2 separate regions of the Homo sapiens genome follow, and region 2 is reported to be linked to region 1. Evidence: microRNA targets listed by miRTarBase, many of them from high-throughput screens and not tested one by one. Region 1 holds a microRNA gene; the other region holds the end of a gene's coding sequence.
Evidence for each region. The annotated mature microRNA hsa-miR-4526 reads GCUGACAGCAGGGCUGGCCGCU and lies in region 1 at 881-902, shown strand. An mRNA with a match to its seed (bases 2 to 7 or 8) in the 3' UTR can be bound and repressed. Matches are read on the target gene's strand: a 7mer-m8 pairs with bases 2 to 8, a 7mer-A1 pairs with bases 2 to 7 and ends in A, and an 8mer does both.

Region 1 (3,119 bases):
TTTTTTTTTTTTTTTTTTTGAGACGGAGTCTCACTCTGTCGCCCAGGCTGGAGTGAAGTGGCCCTATCTTGGCTCATGGCAACTTCTACCTCCCAGTTGCAAGCAATTCTCCTGCCTCAGCCTCCTGAGTAGCTGGGATCACAGGCGTGTGCCACCACACCTGGCTAATTTTTGTATTTTTAGTAGAGACGGGTTTCGCCATGTTGACCAGGCTGGTCTTGAACTCCTGACCTCAGGTGATCCGCCCACCTCGGCCTCCGAAAGTGCTAGGATTACAGGCTTGAGCCACCGTGCCTGCCCCACAAAGCCCTAATTTTAAGAAACAGACAGGTACAGTGGCCTACAGCGCTCCTCACTAAGGCCCTGGCTTGAGGGCAAGCCTATCATGTGACTGAGCCTGACCAGGAAGTGCTGGCCCAGGTGGCAAGGAGCCTCGGGGCTCCAGGGACAAGGGGCGCTGGTAGCCAGGGAGGGGCGGCTTGAAGTGGCTGCAGCTTCTAATTCTTTCTGAAGCTGCCTCTTTCTGAGGGTGACTCCCTCTTCATTCACCCAGCAGGGTGACTCTGAGAAGTCAGGGAAAGTCTGGCACAGGGAGGGGAGTTCCATTTTTAATTCGGAAATTGCTCAGGAAGAATCATACCATCCGGATTTCCCTCGCGGCTGTATATTAATAAATGGTCACTTTCCTTGCTGAAATTCTCTGGTTTCCTTTTATCCACGTGAAGCTTCTGGAAACTCTTCTGGGTGGTTCTTCTGTTGCTTTTCTGCCCCTGCCCCCAAAAATGAGAACATGAGAAAGTGATGTCTTCTAGCCACCTGGAGGACCCTGCGGTGACATCAGGGCCCAGTCCCTGCTGTCATGCCCCAGGTGACGTGCTGGGCTGACAGCAGGGCTGGCCGCTAACGTCACTGTCCTGGCTTCTAACGCTGGTAGTAACCAACAGAGTTTAGTTTTGCTTTGACAACTCCTCCTACAGCCAAAACTATTGTTATGGCCCACATGTCATTCCTATTTACCCTAAATAAGGAAAAACAAAGGCTATTCTGGGCTCCCGGCAGTGCTTGTGGTGGGGGTTATTTGCAGCGTTACCATGGCAGGCTGCCCTTTCCACCACGGCCACCCCGTGATTTTCTCTGAAAACTGCGACAGACTCGCAGCCTGCCCTGAATTTTCTTCACACAGCCTGGGGGCATCCGAATGCACGGGAGATGTTTTACACTCAGATGAAACAAACTGTTTAGACCTCGGGGAAAAGAGACTGTGCTTGAACAAAATGAACCAGGAGAAAGCGCCCTCCTGAGACATGTCTCTGCTTTCATGTTTGAATTGCCTGGGATTCTGTTCTCTAATTTCTGATCCTTATAAACTAAAACTGCCTAGGAACATTGAGCATCCTGACTTTGAAGGAGTCTCTGTGGTGTTTTTGTGCTACCATACATGGGGAATAATGATGTGAGGCAGAGGGAGAGGGAATGAATGGGAGAGCCAAGAGGGAAGAGCGAGCCGGGGGGAAAGGAGCGCGCAGTGTTTCCTGCTGCGGTTAGGACCTCACGCCTTGCCAGTACAGAGCTCGGTGGCAAGAGCCGCTGGGAGCTGCTCCCATCAGTTAGAGGATGTGGAGAGGGAGCACCAGAAGAGGACAGCCCGCAGCCTGGCTCGCAGCCTGAGGGACGCTGTGGGTGCTCCCAGCCGGGCGAGCACGCTCTGGGAGCGGATCTGCAGGGGAGAAGCACGCGAGCCTAACGTGAGCGTCCCGCCTGTCGCGTGTCCTGCCTTGGTAAGCGCCCTCTCCGGTCCTTCCACACTGAAAGCTTCCAGCAGAGATCAAGGGAAGGAGTATTGTGTGAGACTTGCAGATTTCCTCCTTTCTGTCTGGACTGGTTTGATATTTGCCTGTTGAAAAGATTACTGAACGCAGTGTGACAAGATGAGCCGTCTAGCTGCGTTCTGCTTGCCTGTGTGTGTGACACGTCCAGGTGTGAGGCCAAACCTGAGAAGTGCAGACTGCTCACTGATAGACGTTGCTGTAAACAGTAGTGCCCTGGGTGTACAGCTGGTCTCAGGATCGGAGACCCCGGACTTATTCTCTGCTCGGTGACACGGCCGGCTTCCTGCCGCAGAGCTCCTGGTTTCTGTTGATGGCAGTTGATAATTGGTAGCCACAGTCTGCGGTCGGAGCCACAGCATTTGAGTCTAGCACCTGGGGTGGGCCCTGCTGATACAGTAGAGAGAGAGTGAACGAGGCAGACAGAAACACACCCCCCCCCCCTCCACGCTCACACACTCTCCCACACCCCATGCCAGCTATAACTGCAGCTCTGAGCTGCCTGGAGAGGAGATTGCCGGAAGCTGAAGGGATGCTTTGAACGTGGGGGGGCTGCGTCACAGTTGGACTCCCACTTGCAGAGGACCTGATTATGTCCAGTGACCACCTGAACAACAGCACACTGAAGGAGGCTCAGTTCAAAGACCTGTTCTTAAAAAAAGGTACATTTCCCAAGAACTGCTATGGATGATGCATGCTCTTTCGGGTTTGCTGTGGTTCTTCTTGGAGTTTGGTCTGAGGACAGAGCTGAGAAGAGGAGAAGCTCTTTCTCAAGAAGTTTCTTTCTACCTAAGAGGGGTCTGTCAACTCAGAACATTTCCGGGTGGGACTCCCTTTAGGAAGATGCATGTCAGGCTTTTTCATCTTCTTTCAAGCCTGGAATTAGTTTGTTCCTGTTGGAGGTGTTATGCATGAGTACACAGTTTGTTGCTTTGGAGTTTTGTTTTTTTCAAATGTCTGTATATAAGGCTGAGACCTCCCCTGGAAATTCTGCTACTTGTTAATAATTCCTTTTTCTTCACCCTCATGAGCTGAAAACTGCATTTTAAAGAAAAGGTATTTCTCAGGATGTGGCTGGTTCATTGAACACTTTCTTAGGTCATCCATGTAGTGACAGGAGCTATTAGGAAGGAGAACTGTGACTCTGAGAGATAGAGAGCCAAAGAAAGTGAGAGACAGACAGACTGGCTGTGGGATGAGAGCCTCAGAAGCCACCACTCTCCCCTGTGGAAATGAAGGTTCCATTCCATGTGCAGCTGTGTTTTTTTTCTGATGCACTTTCCTAAATTAATA
Region 2 (3,073 bases), not on the chromosome of region 1:
GTTGTGGCACATGCCTACTGGAGGCTGAGGTGGGAGGATCTCTTGAACTGCAGGGGCTTAAGGCTGTAGTGAGCCAGGATCGCACCCCTGCACTCCAGCCTAGACAATGGAGCAAGGTGGACGGATCTCAAAAAAAGCCACTTGGGCTGAATCTAGTGAGACTGCAGAATTTATGCCAGCCTGACCTGTCACTGTCATTTCTTCCCTGCAGACTCTGTTTGCTGGCTACACGGACAACCTGGTGCGAGTGTGGCAGGTGACCATTGGCACACGCTAGAAGTTTATGGCAGAGCTTTACAAATAAAAAAAAAACTGGCTTTTCTGACTTTTAGGTTTTTTTTTCTTATATGCAAAAAAGCTCCATTCTATCTACATTGCTTACACATTAAGTTTGCACTAGCGAACTGGATGCAAGGTATGGACTAAGTAAACAAGGCTTTGAAGGGGAGCTGTCCGTCTAAGTTCTCAGGATTGGGGTAGCATCAGGTGGGATGTTTGTGAGAAGTCACATAGCAGTTTCCCTGAACTTAAACCCCATCAGCGTCCTACATACCACGTGCAGATCATCAGGGCCTACCTTCAACCTGGGGAACCTTCTTGAGGGAAAGAACTGATTTCAAAGTGGTTGCAGTCAATTTTTAGAAAAAGCAGACTCCGCAGGTCCAACCCCTGACACGTAAGAGTGGAAGATGAATCCTCATTCCTCTAAAGATTTGAACATAATTCAGAAAACTTAAGCTTCATGTTAGCAGTCTCTGTCAACATGGTCTTTGAGGAAAGTCAAGGGTTTTTAATTCTTTAAGCAAGGCAGTTCTCACCAGAAGAACTTAATTCAAAACTAATTTATTCCTCAGGTCAAAAGTTTTGGGGTGGTTGGTCTGGAAGCATTCATAAATAGAACCATAAAGTTGGCCCTACTAAACATTTCAACTGCTACTATAACCTGGCCCTCAATCCCCCTACACACAAACACAGTTTATTCATGAGGATAGATGCCTTGTGAAAGGCCAGAAGTGAGCCATTAAACTACAATTACAGTTTCCAATAGAAACCTCAGTACAGGGATGGAATGGTTCAACATGCGGCTGAGACCCCACTACCCTTGCAATTTTCTGTGCTAAGCAACTACAGCATATTGAAGGCCCACATGCACCCTCCACTTCCTACTCCCCTCAATTTATAATGGTGATGAGGCATTTCTGGCTTCAGTTTCAACTACGTGTGGCAAACATCTCTAAGTAGACTGAACAGTTAGTAAGTTAGGTTAAGATATTAAAATGGGGAGCAGGGTCCACATCCCTGTTGAAATAGGAGCCTGCCTGGTAACAGGTGCAAAGCATGCCTTTAACTGCAACTAACCAGTTCAGTTGTGTGGCTTCTCACTGCAGGGGCGGCAAAGGAAGAAATCCTGAGTTACACCCTCACCTGAAGGAACAGACCTCACAAGAGAAGCAAATAAACATTTTATTTCCACAGCACGCCTTCCCTTTTCCCAAAGAACATGAGTTCACCTCAGCCATCAAAGCAGAGGGCGAAAGCTGCAAGTGACAAGGCAAGAGGCTCCTAGAAAAATAGATTATACCCAAGGCTCTCCTCCTGGGGACCCAAACCCGTCCCCAGGCTCCCCCTCAGAGCTTGCCAAATGGAGTGAAAGGCATGGAAAGGGGCTGGGAGAAAAGCCAGCTCCACTGAACAAAGGGGAGAGGAGCCTGGCAGTGAGCAGACCTGGGAGGGGTGTGGGGTGGGATGAGCTTTGCTCCTTGGTTGAGTGCTGGAAAAGGGAAGGGGGAAGAAATAATTTATGTTGATGTAATTAATGTAATGATGATGTAATGGTGCGTGGTTTCAATCATGGCGACCATTCCAGATCTCTCTCAAGTGAAGCTAAATTCTGGCCGGTCTATGGAGGTAGAAATTGAGGACGGAAGGAAAGTTTAGAATCCCTCCTCCCCAGGAGAATAGACATTTATTACCCAGCTCTACCCTTTGGCCCAGCCTGCCTCCCCAAATGGCTTCCAAATCCCTCAGCTAAAATCTGCATCAGAAAATGGAATTGGAATGGGGATGTTGCCTTGCCCAAACCCTCCAGCCTCAGAACTGATAAAGAGGTTGAAGAGCAGGGGTGGGGAAAAGGAAGTTAAGGAATGAAATTACAATTTCCCCTCATCCCCTACTCAAATTCCAGTCCCAGGGCTGGGCTAGGCAGACTGGGAGAGAAGACCAGGCAGCTGTTCTCATTATCAGGGACCCATGCAGACCTGTTGGACAGACATAGTAGGTGAGAGAAGGCTGAGCTGGAGGCCAGGAGGGTTCTTTAGGCTCCTAGAGGGAGAAGCAGGGGCCTGGGGTCAAGGGGGAGTGGGAAGCAACACAGTAACAAGCAGTGGGAAGAGCCTTTGAGCCCTCAAACTTACGGGCCACCCTCCACCACCCACCCCCCAAGTGCTGACAGAGGGGCCCCTGCGGGTGGCAGGATAATCAAGGGCAGAGCTTGATGCGGGTGCCCTTGGAGAGCACCCGGAAGAAAGGAAAGACACGCTCGCCCAGGAAGGCAGCCGAGAAGGTGTGCACGTGGGCTAGAGTCTCTGCGTTGTAGAAGCCCAGGCGCCCAGCTTCATAGTCCAGGTACACACCAAAGCGCCTTGGTTTCTCACTGGGGCTCAGCAGCGTCTGTTCTGTGGAGCTCTGGGCCTGATAGCGTTTGCCGTTGGTGCCCACGCACCACACTTCCCGCTGGAGCAGGGGCTGCTGGGGCAGGTGGAGCCGGCGGCGGCGATGGTGATGGCGCGAGGAGCTGGCATCCCCGCTGCCCACGGAGGAACCCCCAGGGCCCACCTTTTCCTTATGATGGGTTGATTCACGGGCAGCACCCACCGCCCAGCCCCGCCGCCCGCCCACCTCTACCTCCCAGTAGTGCCGGCCGGAGCGGAAGCCCTGGGCCCCCAGTACGCAGCAGTCGGCCGAGAAGCGCTTGGGATGGTCAGCAACCTCCTGCCGCCGCTCTGCCAGGCGGACCCCCCGGCGGTCAGGGGACAGCATCAGGGCCGGGTGAGCCGTGTCAGGGTCCAGCGTC

Region 2: the mRNA of TRIM41 is a reported target of hsa-miR-4526. Seed matches in the 3' UTR shown: 7mer-m8 at 2,446-2,452.

The regions. Positions count from the first base shown.
Region 1 is chr18:13,610,287-13,613,405 of GRCh38, forward strand. MIR4526 (microRNA 4526) reads left to right here and starts at 828; the gene lies at 828-914. The region is part of intron 4 of LDLRAD4 (low density lipoprotein receptor class A domain containing 4); the gene reads left to right. RefSeq lists enhancers at 2,338-2,567, 2,988-3,119.
Region 2 is chr5:181,234,181-181,237,253 of GRCh38, reverse strand. TRIM41 (tripartite motif containing 41) reads right to left here. Exons shown (of 6, transcript NM_033549.5): 6 at 1,446-3,073. The coding sequence ends at 2,479. RACK1 (receptor for activated C kinase 1) reads left to right here. Exons shown (of 8, transcript NM_006098.5): 8 at 212-357. The coding sequence ends at 277. Among named protein-coding and RNA genes, the nearest start is that of SNORD96A, 6.2 kb to the left of the region's middle. RefSeq lists an enhancer at 1,048-1,127.